Linked DNA regions of Homo sapiens: region 1 is linked to region 2. The links come from fine-mapping of genetic effects on gene expression. A gene starts in region 2. The other region holds a variant in brackets. All regions are shown on one strand. Distances are from middle to middle.

Region 1 (9,728 bases), 23 kb before region 2:
ATGGCTGATGAATAAAAACTAAGCAAAGGCCCAGTGATGCATAGTCATGCTTCTACATTTCTCTAAGTCTCATTTACTTTGACTCTTTTATGAGGTCTTTTTTCCCCTATTAATAGAAAAACTTGCTTCAGTTTCCCATAAGTGACTCAGTGAGAGCCAGGTGTGCATACATACAAGGGTGTGTACCATAGGAGAGAAGTTCCAAAATTATGAATCTGGGAGTACATATCTTATGAGAGCCTTTTAATGTATAAACAGCCTGATGACATTCTTTTAGGACAGACTAAAGGTCAAATACTTTCCCCAGTTCAAACTGACTGTTTAATCGCTGCAAAGAAGTGGAACAAATCCCACTCCTAACCATCTTTTACCCTCAGTGGCCAAATGACTTGTGGCTCTAACAATGGGGACCTTGTACAAGTTAAAAGAAATGGATTAATCAAACACAATCCAGCAGGAGGCATAGGCACTGAAGAAACCTACTGCAGACAAGCCTCCTAGACAAAGTTCTTGGTATAGATTCTGATTTTCCTATTTTTAATTTTTGGTTTGGGAAGAACACTACACACAGAGCCCAGGGCCTATGGCAAGGAAGCATCAGGAAACTCGTCCCTGTGCAACAAAAACGGGAAAATGAAAAATATAACACATTCTTTTGGAATTTAAGTTCTAGACCAAGATATATGTTGCTTTCTATGGATGCTCTACTCACAAATGAAAGATGATTATTTTCACTTTAATTGCTATGGAATTTACTTGAATGAGAAAGACACAAAGACTGACTGCACATACCCAAACATACTTGAACCCACTGCACTCTCTACCTCTTTTTCCAGGGCAGTCACACCCAGGGCTCCCCTTTTCTTATGCCCAGGCTTTTTAACTTCATCAGCTGTAATGTAGCATGAGAGAGAGAAGAAAAAAAAAGATTTTCAGATAAGAATGACATTTTTCTTAAAAGAGCTTCCAGCATTGTCAGAGTCCTTCAAAAGTATATTTCATTATTAGAGAAGAAATCTAATGTTTCTAAAAACAACCCTAAAAATCAGCCACATGTCTTTCTTAAATCTGAGGTTGGTCCCCCCGCCCTGCTCATGCTGGCACTGAAGGAAAAGAAAATGATGTGCTTTAGCTTGGCCATCTATAAAATAAGAATAGCCGTATTATTAAACAATCTCGCTAGCCTTTGAAGAACACTTTAGGATGAGGATTTTTTTTTTTTTCTGAGACAACGTGCTGACAAACTTACGGCAATAGGCCAATGTGTGTGGTTCTAGGTAAGTCCCTGGAGAGAATACACGGGCAGTGTAGGGAAAAGGAGCCTGGCCAGGCACAGTGGCTCACACTTGCAGTGAGCCGAGATTGCATTACTGCAGTCTAGCCTGGGCAACAGAGTGGGACTGTCTCAAAAAAACAAACAAACAAAAAAAAAAAACAACAAAAGAATGAGAGAGAGAGATGGTGCAATTCAGCCCTCCATTGGGAAGAAAGAACCAACGTGTAGTGGGTAAAGTGATTTGCACAGGGCCAAACAGAGTCAAGATGAAACCTCCTGATTCAATGCTCCTGCCCCAGCTGCCCTGGAATTCTATAATCCACGGGGTGGCTTTACAGGATGTTACAATCCTGTTAAACAAGTTGGGGCTGTGGGTATGACTCTGGGAAACCCCAGGCTAAAAATGGCACAGCCTATTTGTATCTGATGCCATCAGCAAGTGGAGGTAGGAGATGCCCGTCTCAATACACCAAGATTCACTTTACTAAGAAATGTGCTATCAGTAAAACACATAGAGGGCATTAACCACAAGGCATCTTCTGCTATGAGATGTTCAAACACATAATGAATGATATATATGCAAGGCATCTTCTGCTATGAGATGTTCAAACACATAATGAATGATATATGTGCTCAAGCCTGGTTAACTGGAACCCACTCAGCTCAATCAAAGGCAGCAGCACTTAAAAGATGCATCCAACAGCAATATGATGTTAGCCACCTACATAGTTTTAAAATTTCTAGTGGTCACTGAAAAAGTAAAAGAGAAACAGGTAAAATTAACTTTAAAATCTTGTCTAACCTAATATATTCAAAACGTTATCACCCCAAATAAGTAATCAATGTAAAAATTGAGATTTCATGCTAAATTATATTCTCTTAGGGATCCTTCTTTTTTTTTGAGATGGAGTTTCACTCTTGTTGCCTAGGCTGGAGTGCAATGGAGCAATCTCGGTTCACTGTAACCTCTGCCTCCTGGGTTCAAGCAATTCTCCTGCCTCAGCCTTCCGAGTAGCTGGGATTACAGGTGCTCACCACACCTGGCTACTTTTTTTTTGTATTTTTAGTAAAGACGGGGTTTCACCATGTTGACCAGGCTGGTCTCGAACTCCTGACCTCAGGTGATCTGCCTGCCTCAGCCTCCCAAAATGTTGGGATTACAGGCGTGAGCCACTGCACCCTGCCAGGGATCCTTCTTTTAACAGATTCTTTCCTCCTGTTGTTGTAAAGTAGTGTCAACTAGTGGACCCTCCAGCCAGTATGCACACACTCTCAATAATGGCACTCAGTTACTGAGAAGGTTAACACATGCAAGATCCCACAAAAGGCACTTATTAGAGACTTTGAACTTCCAAGGAAACATTAAGAGGGCAGGTTATCCATATGTCTCATAAACAGAAAAATAGTAGAAGATCTTAAGGTTACCTGGCTAAGATAGAATGAAACCAGATCTGATGGCAATACCTGTTTTCTTTCTAGTCTCCATCTTCTGACCCAACTGCTTTCTTGAAAGAGCCAGTATGTGAAACATCTACATTTAAGACATGTGAGTAAAAGATCTGGGAAATGCAACAGCGTATAGTCATACTGTTTAAGTAACAGATTAACCCAAGGCTCAGTGCCCAATTCAGACTTTACAGTATCATCTGTAATACTTTATACATCTGGATCATCCTGAATATGGAGTTTTGTATTCCACTCTATTTAGCAATCATATTATAATCATTTTCTTAAACTATTACCTCCAAACACATGGACGTTGACAGCCATTGAGATTTTGATCAAGATGTCTCCAAAACACAAACTCCAGCCTATCTCTCTATTCAAATGACTATGTTCAAGCCCTCAAAAATTACTGACAGAGCAAAGATGGGCCAGGAACTGTTGTGGGTGTTGGTGATATGGTGCAAACTGGGCAGAAAGTGACTTTGATCTCACATGGCTTAGAGGGAAACAGGTCACAAATATATAATGTCAGGTATAAATACATTATAAGGACATAACTTGGGGTGAGAAATATGTAACCATTTTAGTCTAACCCCATTATTTATTAGGTTGAACCACATGAAACTGCTGATATTCAACCATTTCTGACCTACAGAATGGGCAATTTCAAAACAGTTTCATTCCATCAGGAAACAACCAAGAATGCTTCTGATAGACTGGAAATTATAATGAATCCCTGAAAGGCAGAAGCCACAGTGGCCTGGACTGGACAACCCTCTCTCCCATAGCAGAAGCTCTAGGAGCAGGCTGTGAGTACAGTAAGCTCAGAGATAACTGATGGGAGGAGCAGCATGGACTGAGGTGGTAGGCAGGGTGATTGGATGGGGGATTGTGGAAGGATCCCCAAATGATTTAACTCTGCGCTACTCTCCACTCTCCATCCAGCCCAGGAGGCTCCTGTCTTCACCCAGAGCATTCTGAGAGGCAATTATTTCTACCAGGAATAGGGGAGGGGGTGGCCCTAGTACAGCTGCCCCTAATCTTTTTGGCACCGGGGACTGATTTCATGGAAGATAATTTTTCCACAGAGAGGGTCAGAGGGGATGGTTTCAGGATGAAACTCTTCCACCTCAGATCATCAGGCATTAGTTAGATTTTCATAAGGAGTGCACAACACAGATCCCTTCCACGTGCAGTTCACAATTGGGTTCCTGCTCCTATGAGACTCTAATGCTGCTGCTGATCTGACAGGATGGGGAGCTCAGGTGGTAATGCTCGCTCTCGCCCCACGGCTCACCTTCTTCTGTGCAGCCCGGTTCCTAACAAGCCACAGGGGTGGGGGATCCCTGACCTAGAGACCACCACTTTCCCTTGTGATTTCAACTACCTCTAAATGCAGAAAAGGTCCAAAAATTTGGCAGTCTATTATTGTTGTTTTTTTGGGGGGGTAAAGGAACAATATATATTACTTGTGCAGTTAAATAATAATAATAATAATAATAATAATAATAATAATAATAAACAAAACCCCAGCACCTCTGGCACCTGATCGATCGCATTATGAAGGGACAACTGGACATCACATGCCTTCCGACAGGATGCAGAAGGAAGGATCCTTGCCAAGAATTCAAACCTGGTTCTGATCAGGCCACCAGAACTAAATCCAGTTTATAGCAAACACAGGGGCCGGGAGAAGACACTAAATGACACTTGATACAATTAGTAACATCCAGAATGTGGATAGGCAGTAAAAGGAAAAGGAAAAAAGAAGGTGGAATCTTCCAGACTAGAAGGCTTATTAAGCTTATGTGTGTAATGAGTGGACCCTTATTTGAACAAACCAACTATTAAAAAAAAAGTTCATGAGACAATAGAGAGAACTTCCTAGATATCTAATACTAAGGAAATACTAATTTATACTCTCTTTAAAAAAAAAAAAAAAGAAAATGTTCTCTTGAAGCTAGGAATTAGGAACTTAGAGAGTCCCTGATTATTATTCTTTTGTGTATATGTTTAAAAATTCCCATAATATAAAGAGACAGCCTATAGATAGGAAAAAAATGTTTACAAACCATACCTCGGATAAGGGGTTAATACCCAAAATACGTAAGGAAACTAAATGAAAGAAAGTTCTAAAAACACAACCTGATTAAAAAAATAGGCAAAGGACTTGAATAGACATTCCTCAAAAGAAGACACATAAATGGACAACAGCTGTATGAAAAATGCTCAACATCACTAATCATCAAGAAAATGCAAATAAAAACCACAATAAGATATCACCTCACACCTGAATGGCTTTTTTGCTGTCACCCAGGCTGGAGTGTAGTGGTGCATTCATGAATCATTCTAGCCTTGACCTCCCAGGCTCAAGCGATTCTCCCACCTCAGTCTCTTAAGTATCTGGGACAATGGCTGTATATCAACACACATGGCTAATTTTTGTTTTATTTTTTACAGAGACAAGGTCTCACTATGTTGCCCAAGCTGGTCTCAAACTTCTGGGCTCAAGCAATCCTCTTGCTTCAACCTCTCAAAGTGCTAGGATTACAGGCGTGAACCACTGTGCCAGGCCACAATGGCCATTATCAAAATGACAAAACAAAGTAAGTGTTGATGAGGATGTGACAAAAACAGAACCCTTGTATACTGCTGGTAGGAATATAAATTAATACAGCCATTACTAAAATTCCCCAAAAAACTGAAAATATCAACTACCACATGATCCAAGAATCCCATCTCAGAGTGTATAAGGAAATGAAATTTTACGTCAAGAAAGACATCAGCACTTCCATGGTCCCTGCAGCATTATTCACAATAGCCAAGATATGGAAGCAACATAAACGTCCATCAACAGATGAACAGATAAAGAAAATGTGGGAGAGGCGGTTCCAAGATGGCCTAATAGGAACAGCTCCAGTCTACAGCTCCCAGCATGAGCAATGCAGAAGACAGGTGATTTCTGTATTTCCAACTTAGGTACCGGGTTCATCTCACTGGGGCTTGTCGGACAGTGGGTGCCGGAGAGCGGGTGCAGCCCATCGAGTGTGAGCCAAAGCAGGGTGAGGCATCGCCTCACCTAGGAAGCGTAAGGGGTCAAGGAATTCCCTTTCCTAGCAAAGGGAAGGGGTGACAGACGGCACCTGGAAAATCGGGTCACTGCCACCCTAATACTGTGCTTTTCCAACTGTCTTAGCAAACGGCACACCAGGAGATTATATCCCGTGCATAGCTCGGAGGGTCCCAC[G/A]CCCACAGAGCCTCGCTTATTGCTAGCACAGCAGCCTGAGATCAAACTGCAAGGCGGCGGCAAGGCTGGGGGATGGGCGCCCACCACTGCTGAGGCTTGAGTAGGTAAACAAAGTGGCTGGGAAGCTCTAACTGGGTGGAGCCCACCACAGCTCAAGGAGGCCTGCCTGCCTCTGTAGACTCCAACTCTGGGGGCAGGGCATAGCCAAACAAAAGGCAGCAGAAACCTCTGCAGACTTAAATGTCCCTGTCTGACAGCTTTGAAGAGAGTAGTGGTTCTCCCAGCACAGAGTTTGAGATCTGAGAATGGACAGACTGCCTCCTCAGGTGGGTCCCTGAACCCCGAGTAGGCTAACTGTGAGGCACCCCCCAGTAGGGCAGACTGACACCTCACACGGCTGGGTACCCCTCTGAGACGAAGCTTCCAGAGGAACAATCAGGCAGGAACATTTGCTGTTCAGCAACATTCGCCGTTCTGCAGCCTCCACTGCTGATATCCAGGCAAACAGGGTCTGGAGTGGACCTCCAGCAAACTCCAACAGACCTGCAGCTGAGGGTCCTGACTGTTAGAAGGAAAACTAACAAACAGAAAGGACATCCACACCAAAACCACATCTGTATGTCACCATCATCAAAGACCAAAGGTAGATAAAACCACAAAGATGGGGAAAAAATAGGGCAGAAAAGCTGAAAATTCTAAAAATCAGAGCACCTCTCCCCCTCCAAAGGAACACAGCTCCTCGCCAGCAATGGAACAAAGCTGGATGGAGAATGACTGACGAGTTGAGAGAAGGCTTCAGACAATCAAACTTCTCTGAGCTAAAGAAGGAAATTCGAACCCAATGCAAAGAAGCTAAAAACCTTGAAAAAAGATTAGACGAATGGCTAACTAGAATAACCAGTGTAGAGAAGTCCTTAAATGACCTGATGGAGCTGAAAACCATAGTACGAGAACTACGTGACGAATGCACAAGCCTCAGTAGCCGATTCCATCAACTGGAAGAAAGGGTATCAGTGATTGAAGATCAGATGAATGAAATGAAGCGAGAAGTTTAGAGAAAAAAGAGTAAAAAGAAATGAACGAAGCCTCCAAGAAATATGGGACTATGTGAAAAGACCAAATCTACATCTGATTGGTGTACCGGAAAGTGACAGAGAGAATGGAACCAAGTTGGAAAACAGTCTGCAGGATATTATCCAGGAGAACTTCCCCAATCTAGCAAGGCAGGCCAACATTCAAACTCAGGAAATACAGAGAACGCCACAAAGATACTCCTCGAGAAGAGCAACTCCAAGACACATAATTGTCAGATTCACCAAAGTTGAAATGAAGGAAAAAATGTTAAGGACAGCCAGAGAGAAAGGTCGGGTTACCCACAAGGGAAGCCCATCAGACTAAAAGCAGATCTCTCGGCAGAAACTCTACAAGCCAGAAGAGAGTGGGGGCCAATATTCAACATTCTTAAAGAAAAGAATTTTCAACCCAGAATTTCATATCCAGCCAAACTAAGCTTCATAAGAGAAGGAGAAATAAAATCCTTTACAGACAAGCAAATGCTGAGGATTTTGTCACCACCATGCCTGCCCTAAAAGAGCTCCTGGAGGAAAGGAACAACTGGTACCAGCCACTGCAAAAACATGCCAAAATATAAAGACCATCGATGCTAGGAAGAAACTGCATCAACTAACGACCAAAATAACCAGCTAACATCATAGTGACAGGATCAAATTCACACATAACAATATTAACCTTAAATGTAAATGGGCTAAATGCTCCAATTAAAAGACACAGACTGGCAAATTGGATAAAGAGTCAAGACCCATCAGTGTGCTGTATTCAGGAGACCCAACTCACGTGCAGAGACACACATAGGCTCAAAATAAAGGGATGGAGGAAGATCTACCAAGCAAATGGAAAACAAAAAAAGGCAGTCGTTGCAATCCTAGTCTCTGATAAAACAGACTTTAAACCAACAAAGATCAAAAGAGACAAAGAAGGCCATTACATAATGGTAAAGGGATCAATTCAACAAGAAGAGCCAACTATCCTAAATCTATATGCACCCAATACAGGAGCCCAGATTCATAAAGCAAGTCCTTAGAGATCTACAAAGAGACTTAGACTCCCACACAATAATAATGGGAGACTTTAACACCCCACTGTCAACATTAGACAGATCAACGAGACAGAAAGTTAACAAGGATATCCAGGAATTGAATTCAGCTCTGCACCAAGCGGACCTAACAGACATCTACAGAACTCTCCACCCCAAATCAACAGAATATACATTCTTCTCGGCACCACATCACACTTATTCCAAAATTGACCACATAGTTGGAAGTAAAGCACTCCTCAGCAAATGTAAAAGAACAGAAATTATAACAAACTATCTCTCAGACCACAGTGCAATCAAACTAGAACTCAGGATTAAGAAACTCACCCAAAACTGCTCAACTACATGGAAATTGAAGAACCTGCTCCTGAATGACTACTGGGTACATAACAAAACGAAGGCAGAAATAAAGATGTTCTTTGAAACCAATGAGAACAAATACACAACATACCAGAATCTCTGGGACACATTTAAAGCAGTGTGTAGAGGGAAATTTATAGCACTAAATGCCCACAAGAGAAAGCAAGAGAGATCTAAAATTGACACCCTAACATCACAATGAAAAGAACTAGAGAAGCAAGAGCAAACACATTCAAAAGCTAGCAGAAGACAAGAAATAACTAAGATCAGAGAAGAACTGAAGGAGATAGAGACACAAAAAACCCATCAAAAAATCAATGAATCCAGGAGTTGGTTTTCTGAAAGGATCAACAAAATTGATAGACCACTAGCAAGACTAATAAAGAAGAAAAGAGAGAAGAATCAAATAGATGCAATAAAAAATGATAAAGGGGATATCACCACCGATCCCACAGAAATACAAACTACCATCAGAGCATACTATAAACACTTCTATGCAAATAAACTAGAAAATCTAGAAGAAATGGATAAATTCCTGGACACACACACCCTCCCAAGACTAAACCAGGAAGAAATTGAATCCCTGAATAGACCAATAACAAACAGGCTCTGAAGTTGAGGCAATAATTAATAGCCTACCAACCAAAAAAAGTCCAGGACCAGATGGATTCACAGCCGAATTCTACCAGAGGTACAAGGAGGAGCTGGTACCATTCCTTCTGAAACTATTCCAATCAATAAAAAAAGAGGGAATCCTCCCTAACTCATTTTATGAGGCCAGCATCATCCTGATACCAAAGCCTGGCAGAGACACAACCAAAAAAGACAATTTTAGACCAATATCCCTGATGAACATCGATGCAAAAATCCTCAATAAAATACTGGCAAACTGAATCCAGCAGCACATCAAAAAGCTTATCCACCATCATCAAGTGGGCTTCATCCCTGGGATGCAAGGCTGGTTCAACATACGCAAATCAATAAACATAATCCAGCATATAAACAGAACCAAAGACAAAAACTACATGATTATCTCAATAGATGCAGAATAGGCCTTTGACAAAATTCAACAGCCCTTCATGCTAAAAACTCTCAATAAGTTAGGTATTGATGGGACGTAGCTCAAAATAATAAGAGCTATTTATGACAACCCCACAGCCAATATCATACTGAATGGGCAAAAACTGGAAGCATTCCCTTTGAAAACTGGCACAAGACAGGGATGCCCTCTCTCACCACTCCTATTCAACACAGTGCTGGAAGTTCTGGCCAGGGCAATCAGGCAG
Region 2 (9,728 bases):
GCAGCAACAGGAAACTATAACACTAAGGGAAGAACTTGTTAAAAATGTAGATGGCCACCCTTTCCAAAGCTCTCTAGGTCAGTGGCTGTCAAACTTCGGTGGACATCTGAATATTCTAAGGCTTGTCAAAACCTAGATTGCTGGGCCCCAGCCCCAGAGTTTCTGATTCACTGGGACTGGGGTGGGGCCTATGAACTTGCATTTCTAGCAAATGACCAGGTGATATGAATGCATGACACGCTTTGAGAACCACTGCTTTAGATGCTTTTGAGGCACAGGCTGGAATGCCATGACTACAACCACAGGTGAGGATCCAGAATCCACTGCATACAAACATTTTCCTTAACTGCTTCCTCAGCTGTACCTATAGGGTAAGATTTTTACTAATCCATAAAATTATCAAGAGAATAAAATGAAATAATGTATTACCATCAGTCTCTGTTTCTGTATACCCTACCACTCCTGGCAAAAATAAAAAATCAAAATAAACTTCCTCAAAGCAACAAAAAAAGCCCTTATTTCCTCCTTTTACTCTGCTGAGCAGTACAAAACCTGGCTGCTCCTACCTCTCTTCAGCAGGTAGTCTTTTTTGGGATTTAGCCTTGGGGTCCTCAACTAAATGTCAAACAGCTCTCCTGGGGGTATCTGGAAACAGGGCTATTTCTGGCTGTCATGACTAGGGGGAGTGCTACTGGCATTTCTGTGGAGGAGGTTAAGGGTTGTACTCCATGTCCTGCAATGCTTGGGACAGTCCTACAAAAGAAATAATTGTCCTGCCCAAAATGCCCTTGTGTCCCTAGGCAAAAAAAATGAAGGCTTGTTGGTCATGTGATTTTCAACTGGGGCCTGCAGGTTGTCCTCAGTTTCAGATAGCCACACAAGGACTCTCAGGCTGAAGGCCCTTGCAGGCCACACTCAAGACAGCAAAGCAGGGAGTGTAAAGGCCCATATTCCACAGTCTACAAACCATGACTTGTCCATCTCCCTTAATATCATTATGTTGATAGCTCACTACCAACCTACAATGGGACCATATCCCCTCCTTGTCACAGCAACCATGATTAACAAGTTGTTGTTATTATTATTATTATTTTGAGACAGGATCTTACTCTGTCGCCCAGGCTGGAGTGCAATGGCGCAGTCTCTGCTCACTGCAACCTCTGCCTCCTGGGCTCAAGAGATTCGCCCACCTTGGCCTCCTGAGTAGCTGGGATTACATGCGTGCAGCACCGTGCCTGGCTAATTTTTGTATTTTTTGTAGAAATGGGGTTTCACCATGTTGCCCAGGCTGGTCTTGAACTTCTGAGCTCAGGTAATCTGCCCAGCTGGGCCTCCCAAAGTGTTGGGATTACAGGCATGAGCCACCGCGCCTGGCCAAGTCTTATTTTTAATCTCCCAGAATGAAAGCTGGGAGGCTGCCCAGGGGAGCCATGGTACACTGCAGGAGCCCTCCAGAATGCCCTGTATCTGGGTGCCAAAGACTGGTTTGGCCCTCTGTCAGGAATACCACCTGCCCTTGGCTGATGCTGGAGGACAATGTCTCCCTGAGGTCCTCTCAGACAATGGCAGTGTTAATCCCATAGCCTCTGGCTCCTGCTGCCTCTCTCCATGGCTACCCCCCAGGTAATATCCTCACTCCCTGCCTGGACCATCTCTCACTGCAGTGAACCACAAAAAAGATTGCTTGAATTACTCTCACTCCAGGTGGCTTCCTCCCTCCCTCAACCTGCCACCCACTCTGCTCCTACAGCAAAGAGGCCCCTCAGCATCCCAGCCTCTGGCCCCCTAACCAGCAGTATCTGGGAGGAAGGAATCCTACACTCACCCTCCTTGGCTCCAAGGAGTCACTCGTGGCCCCTTATCGCCCACTTTGAAATGATCCACCAGTATCATCATCTTTTTGGTTTTCCAGGTCAAAAGCAGAAATCATCCTGTTCTTCTTCCTGCACTCCCCACATCTTATCCATCTCTGTGTTCTACCTGCAAATTCTATCCCCAATCTGATTATTCCTCACCACCTCCATGGCTCCCACCCTAGACTTCAGCCCCAGCACCAAGACTTCTGGCCTGATCTCTTAGCTCTTCCCCTGCCCACAGGCTATTCTGTATACAACAGCCAGAGTAATCATTTTAAAATGTAAATCAAATGCTGCCTCCCACTCTTAACCCTTCAACAGTTTCCAAAACATTTAAAATCAAAATTCTTGATCGCGGTCTACAAGGATGGCCTTATGAGCTGCATCCACCCAATTCTCACTGTGCATCCGTGATTTCCATTCCTACCACACTGAGCTCACTTCTGCGACATCTTGGTTTTCGCTCTCCTACCCCCATCTCTCTCCTCAGGTCTTCACTTGGATCTTTACCCTTTATCCCTATTTTCACTATCAGCTTAAGTCCATTCAGGCTGCTATAACAAAATATCTTAGGACTGGGTGGCTTATAAACAGCAGAAATTTCTCATAGTCTGGAGGCTTAGCAAGTTCAAGGTCACAGCAGATTCAGTGTCTGAGGAAGGCCCACGTTTTGGCTCATAGATGGTGTCCTCTCACTTAGTAGAGGGAATAAGGCAGCTCTCTGGGGCCTCTTTTGTAAGGGCACTGCTTCCATTCATGAGGGCTCCACCTTTATGACCCCAATCACGCCCAAAGGCCCCATCTTCTAATACCATCACATTGGCGATTAGGTTTCAACATACAGATTTTGGAGGCAGACTACTGCACAGCTTAAAATCCACCTCCCTAGGAGTCTTTTCTGACACCCCTCACCCAATGGAATCTTACTGCTGTTTCACTTTCATGTCAGTTGGTTTCCCACCCTGACTAGAATATAAACTTGAAGAAAATAAATAAAGGCCTCGCTTACTCAAAGCTGCATCCCCATTGTCTAGCAGGTATTCAATAAATATTTTTGAATAGGATTCCACCAGTAGATGGCTAGATTTGAAAGATATGCCAAATATACTGCCAATCCAAAACTCAGTGGAATCTTTCACTTGCATGAGTTAACTGCACCTCTAAAATTGAGAATGAATTTAAGATCCACCCCGTTAATATCTCTATTTTAAGAAGAGAGGTACTTGGGCTGACATTAAAGGAGTACCTGGAACTGGGCTGAGTGTGTTACATGTTACTGTATTTAAATCCAGCAACCTCTCAAAGGACCTGCCAGTGACACCAATGGGGTTCAGACACACATGTGCCTCCTATACCTATACCTGGGTGGTGTGCAGTGGGCACTGGAGGCAGCCTGCTTTCTGCATACCCTCTGCCTCCCTCTTCAAGATGGACATTCTATCAAGTGCTCATTTTAATTGTGCATTAGGTCACAAGAAAACAGGGCAGAGACCACACTTCAGATTTCAGAAATGCCTCACATCTAGTTGGTGGAATGCCAGGCTCTAGGCCCAATTCTGTCATTATCTAGGTCCAGCTGTGTAATTCTGGATACTTAGCTGACCTTTCTGGGCCTCAACTTTACACCCGCAAAACGGGTTTGTGTGGCTATATGGATGGTCTTGAAGGAACACTCCAGCCCCATCATTCTATAATTTGGGAATAGGATGTGGTTTTTATTAACCTATTTTGCTCTGGACACTGGCACCTCACATCTTCTATACAGAATGTTGCCTTAGAAGTCTGGGGAATACGGTGCTGGCATCATGGAATCTCTACGGCAAAGCTGTCATCTGTTCTAAATTAAAAGAGAAATCAGCAGGCAGTCCTAGCACCATATGTACCTCTTAATTTTATATCCAGAAGCTTGCCAAGACCAAAAATACACACTATTCAATATTTACATCAGGTCTCTGAGAATCCCATTGCCCATTCTGCACTTAAATGCACTGCATTAATTTGAAGGGAAACCCTGTGGCAGGGAGAATGCTAACCAGATTAAAGTAAGACTGTTTTAAACACCATTTCTCCATTTTTAATGGCGCTTGAAGTGTATTCCTGCAAGGATAAGGTGAAAAGTTGTGGCCTAATGATACCTAACACAATAACTTAATAATTTTTGGGGAAAAGATCATTCAAAATTAATCTCAGTTCCCCCACTTATAAGCACTACCACTTAATAAGCTTCTACCATGTGCAACATAGACAATATAATTCTAGCCCTCCTAGCAAATTCTGCAGTAAAATTCTCAGTTTATAGATGAGCACCTAAGAGAAGTCACATACTTCACACGAGTTTCATGAAAACCATTTCTGCCTTGTTTCCGCCAAACAATGAAGGCAGGGGAGAGGCCTTCTATAAATATTTGCTGGATGCAAGATTCTTTTCAAAATGACAAAATAAGTTTCATATATAAGTCTGGATGCAACACCCTTCACCATTCCTCTCATTCTAAGTGGCTCATTTAAACCTGCAAGGGCGTAATAAACTAATCTGGCTGATTACACACTGACCGCAGAAATTCGCCTTCTCCCGGGAAAACTGCAGTCGAGTGTAGGGAATCGAGATGCTTTGGAGAAGATCGCAGACCTTCCTATCCCATAGGCCAAAAATTTCTAAAAATCAAACAAGAACGCATTCTTAGCCAGTAATAAACTGCCTAGAAGAGGTCTTAAGTTTTATCATCAATTTTTCTTTACGTGCTGTAATTCTCTCTCGGAATACTAACCAGGAGAGAAGTGTTTAAAACCCCAGGGAAGCCAGCTGCTACTCTCAGAACTCGTGCCCTCCTCAGCACAAAGCTTCCCACCGCACAATGACCCCTTGTATCAAGGCCTCTCAGGGCCTAGGGCACAAGGAAATTGAACTCTAACTTGCAAGGCTGCAAAACAAAGCAGTTTCAAGCCAGAGGCCTCCAAACAGTGCAGCCCTAAAAACGGACGCCTGTACTCCTTTTCGAAGAAAGTCTCAGAATTCTTACAGTATTACGCTGCTGGGGAAAACTTCAGCGCGGAGAAGGCCTACGTTTGGAGGAAAAAGAAGCCGGAAGCATACAAAAGAGCAAGTAAGCAGTTCTCCCACGTGGGCCGCAGGCAACAAGCAGAGTCAGAGAGCGGAAGCTGGAGTCCCGCAAGGCACCAGGAGACGGTCACAGAAGCTGCAGGCGCCCGGACACCTCCTGACTCCAGCCGGGTGTCTTTCTTGGAAGAAGAGTGGTTCTCAGGAATGGTGGTGGCATGGGTGCAGCCTCTCCCATCCACGACCTCTCTCTCTAAAGGGGTGCCTACGCCCTACAGGGTGCGGGTGCAGATAAGCCAAAAGGTGGTGTGTGTGTGTGTGTGTGTGTGTGTGTGTGTGTGTGTGTGTGTGTGTGTGTTGGCGGTGCGGCAGGGGGATCATTTGCAAGCGTACCCTCTCCTCGCGCGGCAAGTGAGTCCCGAGTGCCGCGCCCCAGTCCCTCCCCGCGGCGGCAAGGGACGCACGGGCCGGGCGCATGGCCCCCGGAGGCGCGGTCCCCCGGCGCGGGGGCGAGAAGGCATCCGGCAGGGCGAACCGCTGCGGCTGGGAGGGCTCATCTCACCTTCACGGCGGTGGTGGTGGTGCCAGAGGCCATGTCTGCACGGGAAAGGAATCTGCAGTGGGCGAGCGCTCGGGACTAAGGGAACCAAGCGAGCCACAGAGCGGTGGCTGTGCCAACCTCACTGCGCGGGAGTGAGCAGTGCGGAGACCAGGGGCGGGCCTTGACTCCTCCTCTTCCTCCCCGGGACAGCTGGATTGGCTGCTTGTGTGGGATCTCCCCCGCCACCCCTTCCCCAAATCGAAGTTCCCGCGTTCCGCCCCTTTTGCAGACCTTTCCGGTTCTCCAGGTTTTTGTCGTTTTTTTTTTTTTTTTATCCCCAGTTATAACTAACGGATAATGATAATAATGGAGACCATTTATAGAGCGCTGTATTGTTCCAGACTGTGTGTTTTGCACTTTAATTGGCTTACTTAACTTTCGCTAAAACCTTATAAGGAAGAGCAGCACTCCCTGCTTGGCCCAATATTAGTGGCGTCGGAGGCCTCAGCTGCAAAATCTGGCCCGGCGGCATTCCAGAAGTTCTCGCGGGAGGGAGAATCCTCACCAAGGCGGGTACTGGCCGGCCACGGAGATTCTCTTAGGCAGCTAACGCGGGGCGGCCGCCGCGGCGGGGGCAAGATTTGTCCTTCCTGCGGCTGCGAACCCACCGCGGGTTTGCGTATTTCCCTTGATTCCTGGAGGACAGAGCTGGGATGGACTTGACCCAAGACTCAGGGATGACGAAAGGGAAATAAACAGAGTAACGTAGTACTGGATAATCTTTCTGATTTACGAACTATGATTTACTCATCTTCAATTTGAGGGGCCGCTTTTAGGGGGTTGAGACCTTGCACAACTCCCAGTCTGGCTCTACCTGGCTGGGGGCATCTTTAACCCGTTCTACGCCGGAGCGGCATCGAATACACCTGGATTCAGAATCCAAACTCAGGTCTCCGTCATTCAACACTAGCAGGACGCACACACACACACACCACGAGCCCTTTACAGGGATAATCCCTCATGCTTACAGCCCCCGTCCCTTCCCTACTGGGGTAATCCAATTTAACCTTCCTTGATGGATTAAGCGTTCTGAAACAAAATAATGGGTGGCAAGGATCTTAAGGGTGGACTCTGAGATGTAGAAATGCTGCAAATTAGCCTGGACGTGGGAGGAGGGCCGAGAAAGGGGATGCTTTCCTCTTTCCTTACAGCAGCAAAACACGGAAACAAAACACAAGTACAATTTAATTCAAAATACCACTGTGTGATGTTAGCCTGGATGCTGCTCATAGAACCTATTTACTTAAACAGTATAGACTTTCGTCCTCACATTACTATAAGCTTTAGGTCTAAATTTTCTCACAATGTAAAGTTTTCTTTCTTCTGTTACAATCATCTATTTCTTTTAAGTTATAAAATGCAATGGCAAAAGAAGAATGAAAGTAGAATCCGGGTGCTCCTTTGAGGAATAGGAGACAGGGAATCCTTCGCGGATGAAGACAATGTAGCTTTCTAGGGGCCTTTCTGCCGATTGCTCTATTGAGGAGCAGGAAGCCCACCACTCAGAAGTGAACCATTGAGGGCACAGGGATGCCCTAGGCTTTATGGCCGCTACCTAAGTAGGGGATCCTAGCCAACTTAAGTGACTTGATATGGTTAACAAGTCCAGTTTCTACTCAGCACTGCCTCTCTGCTAAAAGTTAGACGTTGTAACCAAGTTAGATCCTGTAAGCATAAAATACCCCTAGGCATAGGAGTTGGAAACTTGGCGAGGACCAGGCTGGACTTCTGGACTTTTCTACTATAACTTGCAGGTTAGGGCTCAAGCATTTGCTCTTGAAGATGTGATGTCTGTGAAGAGGAAATTCTTCTAAAGTTTGAATTTCATGTAAACTTACATGTGACAAAATATTATTCTACTTTTGATATTTTCTCAACCACTTAAGATTGTAAAAAAGCATTCTCAGTTCAAAGCTGTACAAAAACAGGTGGAGAGCTGGGTTTGGTCGAGGTCTTGGGCCATTGTTTTCCGCTCAGGGTAGTGCCTGAATCAGACGACCCCTTGCTACCCAGACTTGGATAACCCTTGGGCAGTCCTGTGGGACAGTGCTTTCTTTAGTGCAGTATCTTTGAAAAGGTAGGCAGTAATATTTTTGCCTTATTTCCAAATTTTGGGTCATGTTTTTTCTTAACAAGCCCTAAAATAAAAGGAAGACAAAATTTTCAATAATTTTGAATACGCAAAAATTTTCAGTGGTCTCCCTTTTTGATTACTATGTCAACAAGACAAGGAGAGTCGGTCTATTTGTGAACATAGATTTTGCCCTGCCCTTCTGTTCTTATCCTATAAATCCCCCTCTGTTAACCTGTACCCTTGCTTTTCTAAAGATAATTATCAAGAACTAGGTCACCTTACAACAATTCTGATTATGAAACAGTATAAGGATTCCAACAGCTTCTCCCTTTTTGATAATCTCTCATAAATGTCTTCCCAACTTCTAGGTCCTAGCCAACAAAGTACTGAAATGGTTATCACCAGTAGCTGACTATGTTGGGTCTTGAGCAGTGGTTCTTCAGTGTCCTACAGTTCCCTTTTACTAAACATGTTATTTTTGAAGTCGTCTCCAAACCATTCCAGAATCATCAAATCTTCAGGAGGAAGTATTCACACAAATGCATGAAATGTATCACCTCAGCCAACCATATCAGCTTTCCCACTGAATTGTTATATTTCTGCCCCTGACCAGTATGTCTGTCCTGGATGGGTACTACAAAATGGGCCCAAGCTGGCTGGTAACCCATCCTCATCTGAAGGTATTAAAGCTGGCAAGTTGTCATGGCCTAAGAAACTCACATAACTCCCCACTACCTTGTAGATATTTGGGCCAAAATAAAAATTCTAAATAACATGGAGGTGTGCTTAGAGATCCCCAATGGTGTGTGAATCACATCTTTTTACAATACACCTGTATCACAGCCACAATGAGTAGGGACATTTTGGCCACTACTTTTGACAATGGATTAGATTCCCACATTGGAAGCTTTGTGAAAAAGCTAAAGTTCTATTAGCAAGCAGCCACTCTAGATTTAGCAGAACATTGTTGAAAAAATATCTGGGGGAACAATAAGTAAACTAATTATAATAATGACAGTAATACATTTTAAAAATTATTGCATCTTCAGATTCTCAGCCAGGCAAGCCTATGCCAGCATGAAGAAGCCAAAGATGTCTGAACTGGTATAAATTCAGGTTCAAAATCCACAACATCATCGTTGTGCACAGTGTGGTCATTGGGAAGAAAAAAGTTAAACTCAGAGACTCAATGCCCTTAATAAAATTGTATCCAAAGAAACTTCTCCACAGGCAATTATCAGAATAATCAACTTCTCTTTATCCTGCCCAAGAAGGAAAAAAAATGTACTGAAAAGAAAATAGTGGCTAGTGTTTATTAAGAAGCAAAAGATATGCAAGTATGTACCAGGCCAGTCCTAAGGTACCCTTCTGAAAAAACATTGAATATAATTGGATAAATGTATAAGAGATTTGTCTGCAATCCAAGTTCTCTTAACACTCTTGATTGTAAATAACTGAACAAATTATTGATCTAAAAAATACAGCTATGTGTCTTTACCCTGACTCTGCAGTATAGACCATGATACAACATAAACATTAACATTTTAGTAACTAGAGACTTAGATATTTTTGTCATAGAAGGCCTAATTGAACCTTTCTAAATTTCTTATAGGTTAGTATGTGACTATTACTCTAAAACTTTAAGGAAATAAGAACAAAAAACAAAGAGAAGTGTTCCATTCTCCCATTATCATAGTGATAAAACAAAATAAGTAGTATGTCACAAGTGAAGAAAATATTACTGAAATCTAATATTAAAAATGCATTTATTGCAGGTACTTTATAGAGGGAATTGCAAGTGATATACTAGGTTTCTCAAAAAATATTTACATCACATTTTAGGTGGCAATTCCTTATAATGACCTTTAATGAAAGTGGAGAGTCCAGTTATAAAGTGTAACCTGGCATCTGTGTTTTTGGTTGAGGGAAGAACCCCATGCTTTAAAATGAGTTAAGTAGGGTCAGTTTTGACAGTCTGCTTTAAAGTTGGTATGCTCCAGATAGTTGGAATTAGCCATATGTTTCTTGTTGCAATAGAATCAAGTTCTCCTTCAGTTTTCTTTATTCGTTCCTTCTATTCAAAGTCCCTTTTACCCTAGAAATATCCTTCATTGCAAATCACCTTGTCTTGTCTTCAAA

What was found. PIP is the estimated chance that this variant, and not a neighbour inherited with it, causes the effect.
Region 1: its variant is fine-mapped to the expression of MTAP in whole blood (TOPMed, PIP 0.98).

What each region holds. Positions count from the first base shown.
Region 1 is chr9:21,821,125-21,830,852 of GRCh38, reverse strand. The region is part of intron 4 of MTAP (methylthioadenosine phosphorylase); the gene reads right to left. Among named protein-coding and RNA genes, the nearest start is that of MTAP, 23 kb to the right of the region's middle. The variant G/A (reference allele first, on the strand shown) is at 5,970.
Region 2 is chr9:21,798,530-21,808,257 of GRCh38, reverse strand. It overlaps MTAP (methylthioadenosine phosphorylase), which reads right to left and starts at 5,622. Exons shown (of 8, transcript NM_002451.4): 1 at 5,477-5,622. The coding sequence starts at 5,509. RefSeq lists a cis regulatory region at 3,048-3,049, enhancers at 2,977-3,121, 4,780-4,989, 5,484-6,112, 6,113-6,743 and a silencer at 5,280-5,439.